Homo sapiens: one gene and its partners. The protein of the gene in region 1 interacts with the protein of each later gene in a biochemical or structural test. Each region holds a gene or a part of one and is shown on either strand. Other genes may lie near its edges.

Region 1 (8,471 bases):
GATTGAAACAAGAGAAACAAATGATAGACATTACCAGTGAGTGGAGGTGGTATAAACCTTGCCCTCTGTCAGCAATTCTCTCTCTGGGAGTGGCAAGTTGGATGATGCTATTTTATAGAAGTGGCAAAGTAAAGAGCACTGGGAATCATATCTCAGTTTCTTCTATCTTGCTCCCTGGACCAGTAAAGTTACTCTGAACTTCCCTTGAAATAAAAAAACCTAGAAATAGGATTACTTACCATAACAACTTAAAAGAATACACTTAAAAAAAGTTGCACAGAAAAACCAAACAAGATTGTATAGCTCTACTTCATGTATTTATGAGTTGTTTCAGAAAAAGAACTTTGATCTTGCCAGGAGCGGTGGCTCATGCCTGTAATCCCAGCACTTTGGGAGCCTGAGATGGGTAGATCACCTGAGATCAGGAGTTCAAGACCAGCCTGCCGAACATGGCGAAACCCCGTCTCTACTAAAAATACAAAAATTAGCTGGGCACGGTGGTACGTGCCTGTAATCCCAGCTACTCGGGAGGCTGAGGCAGGAGAATTGCTTGAACCCGGGAGGTGGAGGTTGCAGTGAGCCAAGATCACTCTACTGTACTCCAGCCTGGTGACAGAGTGAGACTCTGTCTCCAAAAAAAAAAAAAAAAAAAAAAAAATTAGCCCAGTGTGGTGGTGCATGCTTGTACTTCCAGCTACTCAGGAGGCTGAGGCAGGAGAATCGCTTGAACCTGGGAAGTGGAGGTTGCAGTGAGCCGAGAGCACGCCACTGCACTCCAACCTAAGTGACAAGAGTGAAACTCTGTCTCAAAAATAAAAAGAAAAGAAAAAGAACTTTGATCTTATTGTTTATGTTTCAGACACATTGGAAAGAGAGAGAATAGAAGGGATTAAAACATTCTATTATGAAAATAGTAGCATGGTTCTAGTCTAGAATTTCCTCCTGATTCCACTAACATCATAGAAGTGAAAATGACCTTTTCTTGTCTTTTGTCTTTTCCCCAAAAATAACAAGAAGTTATCCGAAATAGCTTTGCACTTCTAATTACAATTCGAGACCTTTGACATGGCAAACAGTCTTCCAGTTTAGTGTGATTGTTTCCCACAAAACTGCCTCAGTAGGACTTGATACACTCAAAGCTCTTTCAGCCAATCATATCCTGAAAACAGTCTCATGAAGTGACTCATTTCTCAGGCTGCACACAACTAAGGGCACAGTGTTTTGTTTTATTCATCCTAGATACAGATTATGATCATTCTTTTCAGGTGGTGGACTCATCTGTGAGCCCTGGCAGGTGACCCAATTCAGAAAGCCAGAAACTCAAAAGCTGACTAGATGTTTTATCTTTGCATATGGAGCTGGGCCTACCAGATTAAGATCCAGAAATTCAGTAGGCTGCTACAGTTTAACTCGTAGCTATGCAGAGTTAACAGTGAGTTCAAACCACATAAGGCTAGAGTAGACTTTCAGGAACGTGGCTTAAATAACTAAAAATTTCTCGCCTAGAATGTAGCAAGATGGAGTACTAAATGCCAAGACATTGACTTTTTTTTCTCCCTTGGATTTGAATATTACATGTCTGTAAAAGATCTGGATTTTAGAGAATGCTTTTCTTCATATTTAGTATTTTAGGCCCTTCTCTAATCACAAAAGATTGTAGGTAAGTATGCATATTCTCACTCATAGGTGGGAATTGAACAATGAGAACACAAGGACACAGGAAGGGGAACATCACACACCGGGGCCTGTTCTGGGGTGGGAGGAGGGGGGAGGGTTAGCATTAACATGTTAAATGACGAGTTAATGGGTGCAGCACACCAACATGGCACATGTATACATATGTAACCTGCATGTTGTACACAAGTACCCTAAAACTTAAAGTATAATTTAAAAAAAAAGATTTTAGGTGAGTATAATCAGAACTTATGCCTTCATAAATACATAGTCTTAATAAAATCATTTACATAATAATTTCACAAAGGGAAAATAGTGTAGTTCTATACCAACCATTTGCTCTAATTTGTTATTCTCTATTTTGTTTCACCTTGCTGCCTGCTTTCTAGAAAGAAGGAATAACAATATCCATTCTTTGAATATGTTTGTCCCCATCATCTAACATATAGTGCTTAATTGTGAATGCATGGCAGAATATATTTCTGAAAAATCTAGTAGAATAGCTTAGGTATACTGCTAGTCCCCTTCCATTTACTATATTGTACTACCACTATTAATAAGGAGTTAAGAAATTTTCATAACCAAGACATAGGAGTGTTAAAGTGAAAAAATATGCATACATTTTGACCCAGCAAACCTACTTTTCGAAATCTATCCCACAGAAGTAATTATACCATTGGAAACAATATGTCTACTGAATGGAGTAGATTTTGGTATAGCCATATCATGAAATATCAATATCATTCACAAGAATTAGTTGATATCCGCATAGATGTTCATATACTATTAAATTTAAAAATGTACGTTGCAAAATAATATGTATACTATAGTCCCGGCTAGGCACAGTGGCTCACGCCTGTAATCCCAGCACTTTGGGAGGCCAAAGCAGGCAGAATTACTTGAGCTCAGGAGTTCAAAACCAGCCTGAGCAACATGGTAGAACCCATCTCTACAAAACACACACACAAGAAGCCTGGGCAACATGGCAAAAACCCTATCTCTACAAAAAAAATACCGAAATTAGCCAGGTGTGATGGCACGCACCCATGGTCCCAGCTGCTCGGGAGGCTGAAGTGGGAGAATCACTTGAGCCTGGAAGGCGGAGGTTGCAGGGAGCTAAGATCGCGCCACTGCACTCCAGCTTGGGAAACAGAATGAGACCCTGTCTCCAAAATAAATAAGTAAATAAAAGACTAAGACTAATATATAAAATATAAAAATGCATGCTTATGTTTTTAGGAACTTAGAGAAAAATGTAGATGATATTAATTAACTGTTAACATTGGTTTCGTGGAGGACAGCACAGAAGAGCTCTGGGAAGGAGACGATAGGCTTTATCTTTGTGTACTTGTGTTACTGGCTTGTTGCAAGAAGCAAAAACTTTTTTGTTTGAAAGAAAAGTCCAATAAAATATTTAAAGAAAAAGAAACCCCAAAGCACTCTTGTTTAAAAATAAAAAAAAAAATCAATTGTACAGGGGTATATAAACCAGAAAGGGAAATCAGGTAATCTTCTTAGGTAACCTGCTTTATTTACTCATCAATATATCAATGGTATCTTTGTATGTCAATAAAGTAGATCTTGATTACTCTTTTAAATGGCTTTAGAGTATTTCATTGTTTGGATATATTATAATTTAATCAATTCTTTATTGTTATACATTTACAGTATTTCTAGTTTTTCTGGTTATAAACAATAACGGTTATCCTTGTATATAAATCATTGCTCACTTGTTCCAGAAGTTAAATTGCTGAGTCAAAGGATATGCATACTGCTAGCATACCTTCTAGAAAGACTGTAGCAGTTTGTAGTCCTACCAATAGTTTATGACATGAGCCTAAAGAATTATCTAAGGAGGTTAGCTGACTAGCCATTCTTCCTGTAAGCAGCAAAAAGAATTTGCTTAGATTAGTAATTGGCAACATTTCACTTCACTTTGATGTACAAAAGGATGTGGGTAGAACTACAATTGTGCATTCAGACATGATAATTCCTACTAACTGGGGGTAGGAGGGCCCACAGGAGTGTAGACTAGAAGTAGAAAGAATGAGGAAAATAAGTCTTTTGTAGCTGTATGGCGATTGAAGAGGAGATAAAACAAACTCTCCAGCTTTTCAGGTTGGGTGACTTGCAGCGCCATCGTCTGGCAAAGCCGCCAAAATCTTTCAATGTCCCTAGGAATAAAGTTGCCCTGAGTAGGGCCACTCAGGATGACGCCAGATGATATCCCTTATTATAGTTTTAGGGGAATCTCTTCCTACCTTCGCCAGTCCTGCAGTGAAAAAATGTACTTAGACTGCTGTACATTTCCAAACCCTTCAACATACAGACAAGTAATTTATACATACATTAGATGTAAAGGTGTAGAAAACCCCATACAGCTTTTTAAAAATATCTCAAGACTTAAACATTCTTCTGTTTCAACCATCCAAGATATAATAGGAAAAGACTTGCTTTTTAAAGCAAAATTGCTCTTTAAAATGTGGCATCCCTAAGTAGTGCGCTTTCATGTAAAATAAAAAAGTCCCTTTCTCGGTGTAGTAGCTGTGGGAAAATTTTATATGCTTTATATTCCAAATTGGTTTCAACTAGTGAGTTCTCTCCCGCATCTCTGCATGACTCTTAACAGCTTTACACTCTCTCCATCCTTTTCATCTCTCCCGTCTCGTCCTTTCTGTCTTCCCGCCTGCAGAGCCCGCCCCTCCCGTCCCTTCGCACAGCACCCCGCCCGCCCCTTCGCACAGCACCCCGCCCGACCCTACGGTTCTAGCCCAGCCTCACTGCTCCTTCCCAGCCGCCTCCGCTGCGTGCCGCCTTCCACGCGCTGACGTCACACGCCAGCGCCGGTGACGCGCCGGCCGCTCTCCCTTAGTCCGCATTCGCTCCAGGGTTTTGGGACCCTAGGTTGCGGAGTCCTTACCCTACCCTGGCCTCTCGAGCAGTTGTCCCCATAACTCGGAATCTAGAGCCGCTGTTGCGAGGCAGGAGCACGTGGCAGTCAAGTAGCTTCCCAGTCCCGAACGCCGCCCGTCCCCACCCCGCCGTGGCCACTAGCAACGACCTCTGTGAAGTTGGAGAGGCGGTAACGGAGGCACTCCCCCTGCTGCACCCCGCCGTTTCTACGGGGCTCAGAAACCAGTTTGTTTGTTTCGTCGGGGTAGTGTCGACCTGTCTTACGGGCGTCGCCCGAGACAGGACGGAGTCAAACCCGTGGTATCAACTGAAGACGAGTGTCAGGTGTGGAGAGTCTCAGTGCCCCCTTTCAGTCTGGACTGTGAGCTGCTGCTGGTTAGACAGTCTTGGTTTCTCTTTCAGGATGTCATTTTCAAAATGCGGGATGGTACCTCTGCTTTATTAAGCCCCGTAGGAAGACTGCCACACCTAGACTGATGCTTATTAGTCATCACCGTTATTCCTACTAACGTCCTGTGTCACTGAGGTGAGTTCCACTTGGGGGAAGGAATGACATGCAAAATGGTAAAAATCATCCTGGAAATGAGATGTGCGTAGAACTGCTTATATTGAGATTACACAGATACCTTAAGTGTTTGCAGGGAAAATACCTTAATCTCATTTAAATGTTAATTCTCTAAGACACTCTGTATTAACAAAGCGATTCTTGGACATTACGGTATTTTTAAAAACTAGAGCGGTAATGGGATTAAAATAATAGGAATCTTAGTATGGATAAGCAAGCATTTGCATTGCTTATGTTGTGTCCAATCTTAAATTACTGATAAATTTTAATTAGGAAGCGAATATGAGTAGTAGTTAGCTGGTTACCCTGTAATCTTAGATTTCTGTTTCCATGATTTGACACAGTTTCCATATGTAAGGCATTAATTGTTGTACTACTTTAAGAGTTTATCATAACTTTTTTTGCAGGCCTATTTTTTGTTCTTTAAGATCTGCTTTAGGAAGCAGAAATATTTTTTATTGCCTTGGTATGTTTCATTAGAAATGTTTATGAAGGATTAAAAGTGGCATCCAATCTAAGTTAATGACCTTTTTTTATGATGCAGCAGTATTGTAGAGCTGATGGAGGGGAGCCAAATTTGGAGAGAAGTAACTCCTTGTTTCTAGTTTACATTTGTCTGGTTTTAGAGGTTCTACAGATCTGTTTCACTTAAAATATCCATTGTTCTAGGTGAAATGTAAGGAGCCTATTTTGTGGGAAAACAGGTTTTTTTCACGTTAAAAGTCACTGTCAGGAATTTAATAAAGGTCGTCGGACTTGACCACAGAAGTTCTTTTGAGGTCGTGTGAATAGTACATTGACATTGTATTCCAAGTAAATTTTGCCCTGTCTAATCTCCTGCCTTCTAGTCTAAGTCATGAACATGACACCTTTTCACGAATGTACATTCTTTATTTACCTGTTGGTAGTTTCTACTACAAAATCTGTTGAATATTGTCTGAATAGACTTACAGAGAAGAAAAAATATTTTGAAAAAAGTCTAATAGAAATTCCATTTTTGCTTTCTGCTTTTTCGAATAAAGGAAGATAAAGAACTTTTTTCCTGAGAAGATAAATGGATCCCCTCCCACTATTCAAGATGGTATTTATTGCTTAGGCAGAACTGTATGTATGGATTGTAGCTGCATACAGCGCCAAAAGACTTCTTGAAACCTGTTGCCATGCCTTTACCATGTTTCCCTTCAAGACAGCCTGTCTATAGAATATCTGAAACACCTGATGAGAGCTTAATGCTTAACCTAAGTATGTGTTCCAGATTGATCGAAGTTGAGCTTTTCCATTCATATACTCTAAAATTGTTTATATGTGGCTCACAAAATTTTATTATGTCCAAAATTGCTTATTTGTGGCTTTAAAGAAATTCTTAGTGGCTGGGTGCTGTGGCTCTTACCTGTAATCCCAGCAGTTTGGGAGGCCACGGTGGGTGGATCACTTGAGGTCAGGAGGTTGAGACAAGCCTGGCTGACCTGGCGAACCCATATCTACCAAAAATACAAAAAATTAGACGGGCGTGGTGGTGCGTGCCTGTAATCCCAGCTACTTGGAAGGCTAACACAGGATAATTGCTTGAACCCGGGAGGCAGAGGTTGCAGTGAGCCGAGATACTGCCACTGCACTGTAGCCTGGGCGACTGAGTGAGGCTTGTCTCAAAGAAAAAAGAAAAAAAGAAAGAAATTCTGGGTCAGACGCTGTGGCTCACACCTGTATTCCCAGCATTTTGGGAAGCCGAGGCAAGTGGATCATTTGAGGTCAGGAGTTCGAGACCAGCCTGGCCAGTATGGCGAAACCCCGTCTCTACTAAAAATACAAAAATTAGCTGGGTATGGTGTCACACTCCTGTAATCCCAGCTACTTGGGAGGCTGAGGCAGGGGAATCACTTGAACCTCGGAGGCCGAAATGGCACCATTGCATTCCAGCCTAGGCAACAGAGCAAGACTCTGTCTCAGAAAAAAAAAAAAAAAAAGAAATTCTTAGTAAAATGTGAGGAAAGCTGTCTTATTTGACTAGAGGCTGAGGTACTTTTTTCTGGAGCATAGTTCATATACTTGAAAAGAAGCATGATGCCATAAGAAAACTTTGAATGTCAAAAGTGAGGAGTTTGGAGATGGGGAATTGTTGAAGGATTTTAATTGGAGAAATTGATTTAGCCAGTATTCTTACTATTTCTATCAGATATTATTGTTTTAATATTTATTGTTTTGAATAGATAATACATTTGTATGGTTCAAAATTCAGAAAGTACAAAAGATTGAAAAATCTTTTCAACTATTAAATGCCTTCTTTGTAGGCAGTATTACTAGTTTATTGTGTATCTCTCCATAGATATTATTTAATACAAGCCAGGGGTGCATGTGTGTATATATATACATATGTATATTTATACACATATATGAGTAACTGTAAGCATATATACTTATGTATTTCCTTTTACTAAACAAATGATAGCATGCCATATTTATTATTCTGATCCCTAAAAATCTAACAGTGTATTAAGAAATTATATCAGTTTAAAAGTTGCTGTGTTGACTGTATGTGAATGATTACATTTTGCTCTATTAGAAACAGTGCTGCAGAGGATAACTTTGTAGATACTTTGTTTTCCTACATTTGGAAATATTTGTAGGGTAAATTGCTAGAAATTGAATCACTACATCAAAGTTTCTGTCCCCTTATAATTTTGGTAGATGTTGCCAAATTATTTTCCTTAGTGCTTGTACCAATTTATAGTCCCACCATATTGTTTCCTGCTATTCCCCCACAGTACAGTACAATAATCAACTGTGAATTTTGCCATTCTAATTGATGAAACATGCCGTCTCTTGTGCTTTTTTAAAAAAATTGTGGTTAAATATACATAACATAAAACTTACCCCTTGTATTTTAAAATTGTATTTCTTCTTCTTTTTTTTTTTTTTTTTTGAGAAGGAGTCTCGCTCTGTCACCCAGGCTGGAGTGGAGTGGTGTGATCTCAGCTCACTGCAACCTCTGCCTCCCAGGTTCAAGCGATTCTCCTGTCTCAGCCTCCCGAGTAGCTGGGATTACAGGCCTGCACCACCACACCCAGCTAATTTTTTGTATTCTTAGTAGAGACAGTGGTCTTACCATGTTGGTCAGCCTGACATCAAACTCCTGACCTCAAGTGATCCGCCTGCCTCGGCCTCCCAAAGTGCTGGGATTACAAGTGTGAGCCACCATGCCCGGCCAAAATTGTATATCGTTTTACAGGAGATTGGGTATCGTGGCACATTTTAACATAATTTGTATTCATTCTCAGTGTTAACGTTTAACTTCATATCCTTTGTCCACTTTTCTTTTGGA
Region 2 (7,756 bases), on another chromosome or scaffold:
GACTCAATAAAGAGTGAGTACAGCTGAAGGAGCCGGGGAGCAGAAAGTATATATGTCAGGTATGAGGAAGAAAATAGATTTTGGAAGTTATGATAACTGTAGAGAGTGAGTTGAGCATAGTTTGTGATTTTGAGGGCCTCTAAAAGTATTAGGGTGGCAGCAGCCGCTGCACAGAGACATGAGGGCTAGGCTAAAACAGTAAGGTCAAGTTGTTTGGACAGAAGGTCTACAGGGTGCGGTCCTGGCTCTTGTGTAAGAATTCTGACTGCACTAACCATGCCTAGGAAGGAAAGGAGTTCTTGTTTTGTAGAAGGGGTTGGGGTTTGGGAGATTAATCGGACATGATCGGCAGGGAGAGCACGTGTGTCTTTATGAGAATTATGCTGAGATAGGTAACAGATAGGGAAAAAATTTGGGCTTGACTGATGTAATGGGGGCTGTCTGTGAAGCTTTGGGGCAGTACAGCCCAGGTAATTTGCTGAGCCTGATGGGTGTCAGGGTCAGTCCAAGTGAAAGTGAAGAGAGGCTGGGATGAAGGGTGCAAAGGAATAGTAAAGAAAGCATGTTTGAGATCCAGAACACAATAATGGATTATGGAGTGAGGTATTGAGGATAGGAGAGTATATGGGTTTGACACCATGGGGTGGATAGGCAAAACAATGTGGTTGATAAGGCACAGATCCTGAACTAACTTGTAAGGCTTGTCTGGTTTTAGGACAAGTGAAATGGGGGAATTGTAAGGAGAGTTTATAGGCTTTAAAAGGCCATGCTGTAGCAGGAGAGTGATAACAGGCTTTAGTCTTTTCAAAGCATGCTGTGGGATGGGATATTGGTGTTGAGCGGGGTAAGGGTGATTAGGTTTCGATGAGATGGTAAGGGGTGCATGATCGGTCACCAAGGAGGGAGTAGAGGTATCTTATACTTATGGGTTAAGGTCGGGGGATACAAGAGGAGGACACAAAGGAGGCTTTGGATTGGGAAGAAGGGCAGTAATGAGGTGTGGCTGTAGCCCAGGAATAGTCAGGGAAGCAGATAATTTAGTTAAAGTGTCTCAGCCTAATAAGGGAACTGGGCAGCTGGGGATAACTAAAAGGAGTGCTTAAAAGAGTATTGTCTAAGTTGGCACCAGAGTTGGGGAGTTTTAAGAGGTTTAGAAGCCTGGCTGTCAATACGCACAACAGTTATGGAGGTAAGGGAAACAGGCCCTTGAAAAGAAGGTAATGTGGAGTGGGTAGCCTCCGTATTGATTAAGAAGGGGACGGGTTTACCTTCCACTGTGAGAGTTACTGGCAGCTCGGCGTCCGTGATGGTCTAGGGGGCTTCCGAGGTGATCGGGCAGTGTCAGTCTTCAGCCGCTAAGCCAAGAAGATCTGGGAAGGAGTCAGTCAGAGAGCCTTGGGCCGGAGTTCCAGGGGCTCTGGGAGTGGCTGCCAGGTGAGTTGGACAGTCCGATTTCCAGTGGGGTCCCGCACAGATGGGACACGGCTTAGGAGGAATCCTGGGCTGCAGGCATTCCTTGGCCTGGTGGCCAGATTTCTGGCACTTGTAGCAAGCTCCTGGGGGAGGAGGTTCTGGAGGAATGCCTGGCCGCTGCAGTTCAGGTGTTTGGAAGTTCTTGTGTGCTGGAGATGTGGCTGGGGTTTGTCTCACAGTGGAGGCAAGGAATTGCAACTTTTTTCTATTATTGTACACCTTGAAGGCAAGGTTAATTAAATCCTGTTGTGGGGTTTGAGGGCCGGAATTTAATTTTTGGAGTTTTATTTAATGTAGGGAGCAGATTGGGTGATAAAATATATATTGAGAATAAGACGGCCTTTTGGGCTTTTAGGGTCTAGGGCCGTAAAGTGTCTCAGGGTTGCTGCCAAACGAGGCATGAACTGGGCTGGGTTTTTATATTTGATGAAAAAGAGCCTAAACGCTATCTGATTTGGGATAAAGAAAAAGGAGCATTAACCTTGACTATGCCTTTAGCTCCAGCCACCTTTTTAAGAGAAAATTGCTGGGCAGGTAGGGGAGGGCTAGTCACGGAAGGAAACTGTAAGCCGGACCGGGTGTGAGGAGGGGAGGTGATAAAAAGATTATATGGTGGAGGAGCGGAGGCTGAGGAAGAATTGGGACCTAGCTCGGCCTGGCAAGGAGCAGCCTGGGGAGGAGGGGAGAGGTCAGATGGGTCTATAGAAAAGATTAGAAAGACTCAGCGATGCTTGGGGTTGGGACTGAGGAGACAGGCGGGAGGGAAAGAAGGAAGATTTGGGATGAGTTGCACTGGGAACAGAGACTAGGGAGGGACTGATGTGTAAAAGAACGCCTGGACGTCAGGCACCTCAGACCATTTGCCCATTTTACGACAAGAATTATTTAGATCTTGCAGGATGGAAAAATTGAAAGTGCTGTTTTCCGGCTATTTGGAACTACTGTTGAGTTTGTATTGGGGTCAAGCGGCATTGCAGAAGAAAATAAGGCATTTAGGTTTTAGGTCAGGTGTGAGTTGAAGAGGTTTTAAGTTTTTGAGAACATAGGCTAAGGGAGAAGAAGGAGGAATGGAGAGTGGAAGGTTGCCTACAGTGAAGGAGGCAAGTTTAAAGAAAAGGGAGAGTAGAGACACGGAGAGAAGCGGTTCAGGGGTTCTTACTCTCCAGAAAAGTGGGAAAGGGGTCGGGGTGCAGAGATACGAGGTCGGGATGTGGAAATAAGGGATCAAGGTGCAGAGATATAAGAGGTGGGGGCATGGAAATAAGGGATTGGGGCACAGAGATAAGAGGTTGGGGCACAGAAATAAGGGATTGGGGCGCAGAGATATGAGGTTGGAGTACTTGCTCCTCCTCTAGAAAAGCGGGACTTGCCGCTCAGGGTGAAGGAGAAGGGGTTGGGGGTTTCTTGCCCCCCAGAAAGGCGGAGAAGGGGTAGAGACACGGAGAGAAGGGGTTGGGGTCCTTGCCCATTCCCCAGAAAAGCGGGACTTGCCGCTAAGGGTGAAGGACCAAGGCAGGCGTCCCTGCGTGGTCTGACACCTCTGAAACCTGGGTGAATAATCAGAGAGGTGTCCCTGCAATGATTAAACACCAAGGGAAGGCTGCCTTCCCAGTCCGTGACCGGCGCTGGAGTTTTGGGTCCACGGATAAAACGTGTCTCCTTTATCTCTACCAGAAAATGAAAGGAATTGAAGTTAAGAGAAGGGAGAAATTGAAGTGTGGCGCCAAGATTGAAAGGAGAAAGAGGTTGAGGGATAGTGAGGGAGGTTGGAGAAGAGAGTAAAAAGAGGCTGCTTACTGGATTTGAAATTGGTGAGATGTTTCTTGGGCTGGTTGGTCTGAGGACTTGAGGTTGTAGGTGGATCTTTCTCATGGACCAAAGAGCAGGAGGACAGGGGATTGATCTCCCAAGGGAGGTTCCCCCCCCCCTCCCCCCGCGCCAGTTACGGCACCAAATTTAATGCACGTCCATGTGAAGAGACCACCAAACAGGCTTTGTGTGAGCAACAAGGCTGTTTATTTCACCTGGGCGCAGGTGGGCTGAGTCCGAAAAGGGAGTCAGTGAAGGGAGATAGGCGTGAGGCCGTTTTATAAGATTTGGGTAGGTAAAGGAAAAAGGGGGTTTGTTCTCTGGCGGGCAGGAGTGGGGGTGGCAACGTGCTCAGTGGGGGAGCTTTTTGAGCCAGGATGAGCCAGGAGAAGGAATTTCATAAGATAATGTCATCAGTTAAGTCAAGGACCGGCCTTTTTCACTTCTTTTGTGGTGGAATGTCATCAGTTAAGGCGGGGCAGGGCATATTCACTTCTTTTGTGATTCTTCAGTTACTTCAGGCCATCTAGGCATATACGTGCAAGTCACAGGGGATGCGATGGCTTGGCTTGGGCTCAGAGGCCTGACGCACTGTGCTGCAAGCTGCTTTCAAACAAATGCATTTATTATATCTTGGAGAACATTCCAGTCCAGCAGTTAGTGCTGCCTGCCTCTTTGACAGGCTGCAGAGGATGGCACTGTTGCATGTGCAGGAATTTTATGACCTCCCTCATGATAGAGGTTGGGGTTGCTTCCTGTTTGGGGCCATATTCTAAGAGATGCTATAGTGAACATCCTTGTTCTGTATCTTTGGGCACTTTTACCAAGATTTCAGGACCAAATACTTAAGTGGAACTGCTGGGTCAGAGGGTATGTGCATTTGAAATTTTGGTAGATAAGTCCAGAATGCCCTCCAAGGGGTAGCCTCCAACTACCCCCTCGTTAATCCACCCTCCATTCAGCAAAGTGAGTTGTAAAGTTGACTGAATCATCTAATAATCCTGCTTAAAACTGCCAGGAGCTTCCGCGGAGACCCCCACTTGCAATTCTGTGTGCACAGTCCCCTCCTTCAAGGCCGCAGCCACGCCAGGCTCTCCTGTCCCTCCCACACAGTGGCTTGAACCCACAACAGGGTCTTTGCATGTGCAAGGCCCTTGCACCCAGTGCCCTCAGAGCTCCATGGAATGCCTTCTTCCCATTCCTCAGTCTCACATTGTACCTCCTGGTGCAGGCTGCAGGCCTCGCCAGCCTCAGTCAAATGTAACGTTCCTAGGCCAAGCCACGAATTGCCCAACTGGGTGGTCCGGCTGCCCTGCTATCTCACTTGTTTGTGTGCTTATTGTCAACTCTACCTATGAGGAGTGAGCTCCTAAAAGCAGAGATTCGGCCAGCGCAGGTAGCTCACACCTGTAATCCCAGCACTTTGGGAGGATGAGGCGGGCGGATCACCTGAGCTCAGGAGTTCAAGACCATCCTGGCCAACATGGTGAAACCCCGTTTCTACTGAAAATACAAAAATTATCCAGGCATTGTGGTGCACGCCTGTAATCGCAGCTACTCGGGAGGCTGAGGCAGGAGAATTGCTTGAACCTGGGAGGCGGAGGTGGCAGTGAGCTGAGATCGCGCCATTGCACTCCAGCCTGGGCAACAGAGCGAGACTCCGTCTCAAAAAACAAAAACAAAACAAAACAAAAAAAACACAGAGATTCTTGACTGTGTCTCCGGTCACAGTGCCTGACACTTAGTAGGTGTTTAAGAAGGAGATGCTGGCTGGTTACCACCCTCTGCCAACATGAGGGTGGTAAGTGACATCTATCTGAGATGCCTGTGGTCCAGCTGATGTTGACAGGGTCCTCAGGGTGCCCCCCACCCCCTCACTGAAGCATGAGCTCTTCTACACCCGCCAGAGGTCACTGGGCAGAGGCCAAAGTTGCAGGGACCATGCTGAATGCTGGGCCCATCCCAGCAACATTTTACTGTTGTGGAGACTGTTTCCCTGCTGTTGGGTGAGGTCAAGCATTGATGTTTAAGGGTCTGTCTGTTTCTTTGTAATTCAATTGCTGCCCATGCCCTTAACCTGTTTGCCTTTCCGGTTTTCTGTTTCTTATTGACATTACGAACTCTCTGTAATGAAGATAAGTGAGGTCTTTGTCTCTCATTTGTGTTGCAATGTTTTTTTTTCTCAGTTGCTAGTCTTTTAGGCTTTGGACTAATTTTCCACGTAAGTTTCAATTTCATGGAGTCAAGTTCATTAGTCATTTCCTGTATTTTTTTTTTTTTTTTAAGAGTTGGGTCTTGCTCTGTCACCCAGGCTAGAAAGCTGGTGTGATCATAGCTCACTGTAACCTCCAACTCCCAGGCTCAAGGGTTCCTCCTGCCTTGGCTCCTGGGTAGCTGGGACTTTAGGCCTGTATGATTTCTAACTGTGATGTGATGAGATCCCCTCCCCTGGCTCTGTGAGGCCTGGGGCTGGGCTTTTCCAGGAGTAGGAGAGGGTGAATTTTGGTGCCTGCAAAGCAGCCTGGCCTCGCGTGATGCCAAAGCAAAAGCTTGGGGCCTGGGGCAGATGGAATCTGGCTTGCATCTGGGGGTTAACTGGGCAGTTGTGGGGCACTGGAATGAGAGGAGAGGGAGAGTGGGACTCCTGAGACCCTGCTGTGGGATGAGGGTGAGAGAATGGCAGGGAGGTAGACAGGAAGCACAGACCCTCAGCCCCCTGGGACTTGGTGCCCAGGTTGGTAAAAAAAAAAAAAAAAAAAAAAAAAAGAGTGGGGGGACTCGCTTTTTCCAAGCCTGTGACTGACAGAGCAGCGTCTCCACCCATGGAAGCTGCTCAGGGGCCACCTGCATGTTGGCACAGTGGGCAAGGAGGGGCTGCCCATTATCCCCAGACAGCGAGTGGGTCTGGGAGGGACTGAGCCCGTGCTGTGGTCATAAGCGCTCAAAAGACAGAGGCCACAGCTTCGTTCTTGAAAGAATCTGTTTATTTTGAGATTAAAAGAGTCTCATCTCCCTGCATATCCAGCAAATACTAAATTTGATCTTTTTAATTTTAGAAAAGGGTCAACAAACTTCAGCTGGAGTATGATCTCTCTTTCAAACTCCCATTCTGGTTTAAGGAGCCCCAAAGGGTAACTCTTGACAAAAAAGTGGCTATGTTTGCACATGTGTGTGCATATGTGTGTGCATGTGTGTAATGCATGTGCATAGTTTATAAAATGTTTGCTGTTGTATCCATAAATCCCCTGTGGACAACGTTCCTTTTCGTACTCCGCTGTACACGTGTGCAGTGAATGTTTAGCAAATACATAATTTGGTATAAATCCCATACAATGTGATTTCACAACCAGAAGCCTGACTGCTGAGATATTACTGAATTTTTTAAAGTGATAAACAAGATTATTATGTGCAAACAAACAGGGCCTGTGCTCCAGCTGCGTCCAAATTTACTTGACAAAGCTATAAACACAAGGCCCTTTCTGAAGTCCTGCTGATTGAGTTTCCCCTTCCTTTTGTCGGTGGAGAGGAATGTAAAGGCTAAGCGGGTGCACTCGGACTGTGTGCCTCTGGGCTTGCTGGCGGTGGCACTTAAAGGAACTCATTCATTCTCTGGATGGGGCAACACTCCTCACCCGGGATCCCCCAAGGGCTTTCCCACACGGAGACCTTCCCGAACACAGAGACATCTGATCTTGGCTTGCCCAAGCTGGCCCAGGCCTCGGGGACTCAGGAGCCTGTGGAATGTGCTGAGAGCCTGAGGTCTCTGGCGGGGAAAGGGCAGGGGTCACAGCCCCCCTCCTGCCCTACCTCAAGTGCTTCCCAGCGGAGGGCCTCTAGTGTAATTCCATCTGAGACCTGGGGATGGCAGGAAGGCCCGGCCCTGCTTTGTTTGACCCAGCTCAGAACAGGATCCTGCACCCCTGCTCCTGCAAACTGATGGGGGAGGCCAGAGGAGGCCGCTCCCAGCCTGATACCACTGTCTTCCCTGGGGCTGTAAAATCAGCAGTTGGGGGATGGGGTATTCAGAGAACTCTGCTCCAGAGAACCAGAGAACCCTGGAGCCACCGCCAGGCGAGTAACTTCTCAGCACTTCTTAGCAGCAAGGAGTTCAGGGGAGAACTCCATCTGTCTTCTAGGTCCTTGGAGAACTAGAGGCCGATGGCAGAGGGGTCAGGCTGCAGCCCCGGGCCAGCCAGCTCTGATGTGTGACAGTCATTCCACAGGAATTACCTTCTCTTGCGAGTGCAAGCCTCCAGCCGGCCCAGCTCCTCGTAGGACTGGTAGAAAATGTCGAACTCCCTGGCGCCCCAGCCCCTCCAGACGGCCAGGCACCACTCTGTGTTTTCATTTTCAAAGGTGCACACAACAGTGTCCTTTGCCACCACGGCAGCATCCACCAGCACCCTGCAGAGAGAAGGGGGTCTGAGGAAACTCACAGGGGTTCCCACTCGGGTGGGGTTGGGACCCTCCCCCT
Region 3 (7,663 bases), about 100 Mb from region 1:
ACAAATGGGATCTAATTAAACTAAAGAACTTCTGCACAGCAAAAGAAACTACCATCAGAGTGAACAGGCAACCTGCAGAATGAGAGAAAATTTTTGCAATCTACTCATCTGACAAAGGGCTAATATCCAGAATCTACAATGAACTCCAACAAATTTACAAGAAAAAAACAAACAACCCCATCAAAAAGTGGGCAAAGGATATGAACAAACACTTCTCAAAAGAAGACATTTATACAGCCAAAAATCACATGAAAAAATGCTCATCATCACTGGCCATCAGAGAAATGCAAATCAAAACCACAATGAGATACCATCTCACACCAGTTAGAATGGCGATCATTAAAAAGTCAGGAAACAACAGGTGCTGGAGAGGATGTGGAGAAATAGGAACACTTTTACACTGTTGGTGGGACTGTAAACTAGTTCAACCATTGTGGAAGTCAGTGTGGCGATTCCTCAGGGATCTAGAGCTAGGAATACCATTTGACCTAGCCATCCCATTACTGGGTATATACCCAAAGGATTATAAATCATGCTGCTATAAAGACACATACACATGTATGTTTATTGCGGCACTATTCACAATAGCAAAGACTTGGAACCAACCCAAATGTCCAACAATGATAGACTGGATTAAGAAAATGTGGCACATATACACCATGGAATACTATGCAGCCATAAAAAATGATGAGTTCATGTCCTTTGTAGGGACATGGATGAAGCTGGAAACCATCATTCTCAGCAAACTATCGCAAGGACAAAAAAACCAAACACCACATGTTCTCACTCATAGGTGGGAATTGAACAATGGGAACACACGGACACAGGAAGGGGAACATCACACACCGGGGCTGTTGTGGGGTGGGGGGAGTGGGGAGGGATAGCATTAGGAGATATACCTAATGTTAAATGACGTGTTAATGGGTGCAGCACACCAACATGGCACATGTATACATATGTAACAAACCTGCACTTTGTGCACATGTACCCTAAAACTTAAAGTATAATAATAATAATTTCAAAAGACAAATAAAATTTAAAAAAAGATTTATTCATTAACTTAAAAATATTTCTTTAGAATCTGTTCTTGCCAGACACTGTCTAGGGACCAGGACCGCAGCAATGAACAAAATATTACAGTCCTGATATTACTCCCTCATGGAGCCTCAGTTCTACTGGAAGAGACTGATCAAGAAAATGTGTACAAAAAAGTCACATTTTATTTTTACCTTTTTTCTTTTCACTAAACGGTTACCATGACTATTTTAGTTTATTTCTCCTCATTTCCAATAAGACTGAGGTTTTCATTTTAACACTTTCCTTATTTGTGTCACTATCCAGAGACTTTATTGGACTATTGAGTTTGTTTCTTCTCCGTTTATATTCATCTTCCCCACATAGCTAATAATGTCTGTTCTCCTTTATGCCACATGACTTTAGATATTGTACACTAGGCTTCTTCTCTTCTCTTTATTGAAATGTACACACGATTCTCTTGATGATCCGCCAAGGGGTCAGAGCCTCTTGCCCACTGCTAAGCTTGGGACTACCTCTTCTTGTGAAATATATGTTAATATTTTTGACCAAAATATACTAAATCATCTCCTTGTTATGTGTTCTTACATTTTTTTGTAATTTATTTCAAAATAATGTTTGTGCCACAATATTACTCACCACTCAAATCTTCATTCTCAGATATTGAAACTCAATTTTTGAACTAAATTTTTGAACTAAAATACTTCATCAAAAAAGTCTTTAATTTATTTGAGAGATGTTCTTTTCAATATTTGAAGGTTGAACATAATTCTATTACAGAAAACAAATATTTTTTCTAGATTTTTTATGAATGTTAATTAAGTTTTTATTAATTTTACTTTGCCTAAGACCACTATAAGTTCCCAAATTTTTATGTCAGGGTTCAGAAACAGAATATAACACTCTATTATATATAATTACACATAGGGAAGATCCCACAGCATTTTCTATATTTTATAAGTAATATAAACTTTACTAGTTTTATTACTAATCTACTAATATATATAATAATTTTATATACGAATGTATAATTACAATGCTAATTTATATACTAATATACTAATATATACTAATACTAATTATACTAGTTTTTATACTCATTTCTATACTATAAATATACTACATACTGGTATACTTTTATATACTAATTTTTAAGCCAGAGCTTCATTATCAACTGGTACACTCTAAGCTACTTTTTCTTTTATATCATCTATTATCTTTGTTTATGGTTTCCAAGTCTTTTCTACCCCATTAAGAATTTTCTTACAAAGTAAACCACATTGTTTCTTTTTTACTTAATTCTGTATTTCTGTCTCATTTTAATATTGTTTTGAAATATTACAAACTAGATAATAAACTGGGAAGTTTGAGGCTCTAGACAAGTTTGATGAGTAAACTCTTCTAAAAACATTGTTTATAAACATTTAAAGTAGTAAATGCCCCCATACCATTCCCTCCATTTCTCAACTCAGTATGCTACTGCTGTAAACTACCTGCTGGACAAAGCTTTTCCAGTAATTATTTATCTACCCATACTATAATTGAAGTATAATTCTTTTTATAACTGTGATATGCTAAATCAAATTGGAAGATTAATTAAAAAAATGAATCTCCTTTTAATATTAACTATGAACTAGCCTCATACTATATATATATATATATATATATATATATATATATATGCATAAAATTAGCTATTATATTTTCTTAAACTCATGAAGGCTATATGTCATTACCAAATTCTTCTGGGCACTTCTATCTTTTTTAGCCTAAGTGTTAAAAATAATCTCAGTACTACCTTAAATACTTTTATTTCAAACACTATATTTTAAGTAACTACGTTCCTTCTATAGCTCAAGCTACTTTGAAATACATGGTTAGGAGAAGATACAACAAATTTGTATCTAAAATTCTTACCGTTTTTCCAAGATTGAAGAGAAGTGAAGGTAGTGCTGGATGGATGATGGTCCATCAGCTTCTGTGACTGTTTATATACTATATTTAATGACACACTAATTTTGTGATTTGAAATAAGATCAATAGCGAGCTTTAATTCCAAGAAGTCCACATGATTAGAAAATGATTTCTGCCTATTACATATCCCCAGAAATTCTGGGCATCATTATAACAAGGGAACAATTCACAAGTTGATAAAAGAAACCTGTCCAGGAAATGCAATTATTCAATAACAAAAGACAATGACTGGAGGACAGTGATACTCTGGCCCTGTCCCCAAGTTATTATGGACATAATTAGGTCTCTTTAGGGCCTAGTGGGGCCTTGAGATTTCAGTTGTGGGAAAATTGTATGTGAACGCTAGATATACACAGGGCTTCACAAAGGCCACAGTTTCATGTGAACCTAAGCAGTTGTTAGTGCTTTATGCTGAAATGAAGAAACTGACAAGATAACAAGTCCATGATGGTAGCTTAGTTATGTGAGGCAAACTGTTTCTCCCAGGGCCACTTGATTTGGAAAAAAAAATAATTTAGTTAAAACAAATATTTTGTACACAAGATAAATAAACTTTCCTCTGTAATGGAATAACTTGAAGAGGGAATCTGGGTGGCTGGTATAGGCAAAATCTTCAGTAAATCTGTAATAAAAATTTTGCAAAGTATCACGGAGTTTTATTTACCTTTTAATATTGATTATCTCTTTTCAGGTCAAGCATAATTATGATAATATTAATGATGGGTTTTTTTGCTTAGTTCTAACCCTTTGCCAAGCACTAAGCAAAGATATTATCTTGTATAATCTGCACAAGAACATCATGAGGTAGCTCTCCTCTTCATATTTAGGTTGAGAAAACAGAGATGCCAAAAGGTTAAGTAACTTGCTCAAAACCATATTGTTAATGGCAAAGATACCAGTTGGACTCAGATCTGTCTGACTACATGTGATTCTGTTTGATCACATGTGAGTCTCAGAGCCCATGTTTTAACCTTCTGATAATTTTTTATAAAATTTATCTATCAATGTAGCATTTGGTTGAAATATGTACAATTTAATTATGCCTGAATTGGAAAAGTAGGGCCTCTGTGCTGTGTGTGGCAGGGGAGCTTGCCATTAAGGAACTGCTCTTTTAGTTGAGCCTTAGAGAATGAGTAGAATTTTGCGAGATGATTAAATGGGGATAGATATTTTGGCTGAAGAAAACACAGGAACTGAAAGAGCAACATACCAGTTTGAGGATATTCAGAGGGCATACATTGCAAGTTACAATTGCAGAGGTTTGATAGAATCAGATCATGGATGACTGTGAATGTCAGGCATGCACTGTGACATAATTCAGTGGAAGCAAATATATTAGAGATTTGAAAGAAAAATGGATTGTAAAATTTCTTGGATTTCATGACTTTATGACAACAAATCAGGTAACCTAGTAAAGGAAGTTGTTATGTTATGTTATTGCAGTAGCCTAAGACAGACATTATGATGATCTCAAGTAGGGAAATGGTCCTGGGCATCTTAGGCAATAAAAAGACAAACTTCTCATTAAAATACGAGAAATGTGAAAAATTGGGGAAATGAATTAATATATTATGCCTGAGTGACTGAAAAGTTAGCCATGTTATAAATCAAAATATGAAACCAGGCTGAAATTAGAAATGAAACACTGAGTAAAACCTTGTACGTGGTAAATTTGAAGGTGTCCAGAAGATGTTTTAAATTAAATGTGATACTCAAGAAATAATCATGAGTATAATTTTTAAAGGTAATTTCTCCCTTCAAAGGAGTAAGTGAAGGTCTCTAGGGAAAGAGTATCAAGTGAGAAAAGAAATTGTACAAAACAAAATTCAAGTATCCTTTCTTTTACAGGGGCTGGTATAGCAAAAGGAAATAGGAAAAAAAAAAACCTGCGATATCAAGAATAAGAGAGTACAGAATCCACTTCCTCTCCTTGATATCCTGCATTGCTAGAGGAAGCAAGTGAGGTCAACAGTGAAATGCTACACAGCTGATTGAGATACACTCCAAATGGTTAAGAAGTAAGTAATTTGTGAGGAATTAAAAGTAACATATGTGTACTGCCCTTCTGAGAAACTTAGAAGAGGAGATAAGGAGAACTGTAAGATTGTGACTAGGTGTACAGGGATAATCAGAACCACGGGAAGGTATTTTTAGGGTAAGGAAGACTTGTAGCTTACAAGAAAGAGGCCAATAAGGAAAGAGTTGAAACATACCAAAGAAGTGGGAGTAAATTAATGGAACAAGTTCCTGTACAGTCATGGAGAAAAGAATAAGACCTATAAAAAATGTACCAGTTTTCCTAAGAAAACAAAAAGGAATAAGAAGATAAGTAGATACAATACATGTTTGAGATAAAAGGTAGAGAAGTTGAAGTTAAATGGTCTTAATGTTCTAGTGAGGTGAAAGGGGGAGTTCTCAACTGAAATTGAAGGACATGGTTATACATAGTTGAATCTTTAAGTCAACTAAGCCAGATACAGAAGGACGAATATTACACAATGTTATTTATATGTGGAATCTTGTTTTAAAAATTGAATATATAGAAACAAAGAGTAGAAGGATGGGTATCAGGGGTTCAGGGTGGAAGATAGATAAGGAGATGTAGGTCAAAGGAAACAAAGCTGCAGTTATGTAGGATGAATAAGTTTAGACATGTAATGTACAGTGTGAGGATGATAATCATTAATATTTTATTGTATAATAAAAATTTGCTGAAAGTAGATTTTAGATGTTCTTACCACAAGATAAAAAGAGTAACCTATGTGAGGTGATGGACATATTAATTTGCTTGACTACAGTAATCATTTCACTATATAAGTATCAAAACATCATGTTGTACATCTTAAATATATGTAATTTTGAAAGAGCAGAAATTTTTGGTTAATGTGAAAATGAAAATGAATAACAAATCCACGAGCAATAATTATGACTTATATGAGATTATATATCAGATTTTTTTATCTAAGTAGTTGTATGGCAAGATGGCGGAGATTTAGTATCAATAGGTTAAGAGAATTGTTAGGATAGGGTTGGGATTATTAGTGTTTGTGTTAAAAATGGCAAACCATCAGGTATTGTTTAAGCTAACATACTAAAAAGAGGGCTTGAATGACTAGAGATGGCAAGAAAGGCAAAGACCTGGCCTAAGAAGATACCAATTTTGAGAAGTACAAAAACAGAGATTTTTTCATTTGGGAATTTCAGCATTAGAAAGAAGAGAATTTCTGTATGATGACTAGATCCAAGGAATAGCCATACATTCAGAATGCTGAAAATAGGTGAACATAAAGTTTGTTAGAGGAAAATGTATTTCATATTAAATATCTATGTTTGCAGGCATTTCCTAAATTATCCAGAATGAAATGAAAAATAAAAGATACATTTGACCTCAAGGAGGTCAAAACCTTCGTGGGAAAACAGACATAAAAATCTACTTGTTACGACATGTAAGGAATATGCTAATAAAGCAGTAAGAAGGTGCAATTGACAGAAGGAGAATACTTAGTTCATTTTAGTTGATTCATGGGAGAGGAAAATAGAATCTCCATGAGGCCATGAGTCCTGAGCAGAATCTTGAAGCCAGATAAAGCAGTTAATCGAGGAGGATAGAGAATTCTAGCTAAAAATAGTTAAAGACTGTAGTCTTGGATATGAGAAACAAGTAACTAGAACTAAATCAAGTAGTGAACCTGGATAATGAAGTTCAAGGAAGAGAGAGGATGAAAATGTGAACACAAAAAGAGAAAGCAATCAGACGACGATGGACAAAGCATGCTTTGCTCCTTAGGAATGTGAATTTTATTCTGCAGATGGAGGGATCTATTGAAGAATTTAAGATGGACAGTAACATTTAGAGAATGGCTATTTTTAGAGAACAAATGATACAGGTACACATTTATTAAAATGAAACTGACCAAGTTTGAGCTCACGTTCTTTGTTTTTGTTTTGGTTTTCCAGTAGGTAAATATTGATTGCTAATGTTTATGAAAGTACAGAAAATTGAGGCAAAAAAGAATACTGAATCCCAGAAAAGAGCAGGGTCTTGGTCAAAGTACGAAAGTAGAGACTGAGGTAGGCTTCAAAATACTTGAGTTGTGCCCATTTACAAAATAAGTCTACAAATTTCCTTGCCTCTTTAGTGATTGCTATTCATAAGTGTTTGGCTGACTGTGTTGGATGTTACTCATTCTTATAATTTTTATTTTTTCTATTTACTGCCTATGACAGATATATTCAGGACTTAAGCACAAATAGATGCCCTTCTAAATTAAATAAGCTGAGTATAGACCTACATAACTATTTTTCTTTATAATATACCTTGCATTAATATCATCCTAGATCTATGAATGAGGGGGACACTCCTGATTGTCACATATATTTCATATTTCTCAGAAAACCCAGGTCAATGTCTACTATACATTTGAATTGTTCAGCTGATATTCATTTTATGTTCATACTGAGCCAGGAGGAAGCCAGGAAAAGAAATGATGAAATTACTCCAGCGTCCTAAGTCCAAATAGGAAAGGCCCTAGCTACCCAATGTGGCTTTGTGGTTTAGCTCTGAGTTGCCAAGGCCACAGGCAACAAAGTTAAGGTTTCTAAGAAAGTAATACAAAAACAAGCATGCCTTGTCCATTCTATATATCATTTGTTT

Evidence for each region. The genes of interacting proteins can lie anywhere in the genome.
Region 2: the proteins of NEK1 (region 1) and LRRK1 form a complex in vitro, tested with the Homo sapiens proteins (2 studies listed by BioGRID and IntAct, with this or other methods).
Region 3: of the proteins of NEK1 (region 1) and CSN2, one has a biochemical effect on the other in vitro, tested with the Homo sapiens proteins (one study listed by BioGRID).

Annotation. Positions count from the first base shown.
Region 1 is NC_000004.12:169,608,662-169,617,132, reverse strand, and holds the start of NEK1 (serine/threonine-protein kinase Nek1), read left to right. Parts: upstream 1-4,549; 5' UTR 4,550-4,911; exon of another isoform or gene 4,912-4,989; 5' UTR 4,990-5,113; intron 5,114-8,471. UniProt on the Homo sapiens protein: Phosphorylates serines and threonines, but also appears to possess tyrosine kinase activity. Involved in DNA damage checkpoint control and for proper DNA damage repair.
Region 2 is NC_000015.10:101,068,601-101,076,356, reverse strand, and holds part of LRRK1 (leucine-rich repeat serine/threonine-protein kinase 1), read right to left. Parts: intron 7,687-7,756; coding exon 7,509-7,686; 3' UTR 1-7,508.
Region 3 is NC_000004.12:69,962,729-69,970,391, forward strand, and holds the start of CSN2 (beta-casein isoform 1 precursor), read right to left. Parts: upstream 3,001-7,663; 5' UTR 2,953-3,000; intron 1-2,952. UniProt on the Homo sapiens protein: Important role in determination of the surface properties of the casein micelles.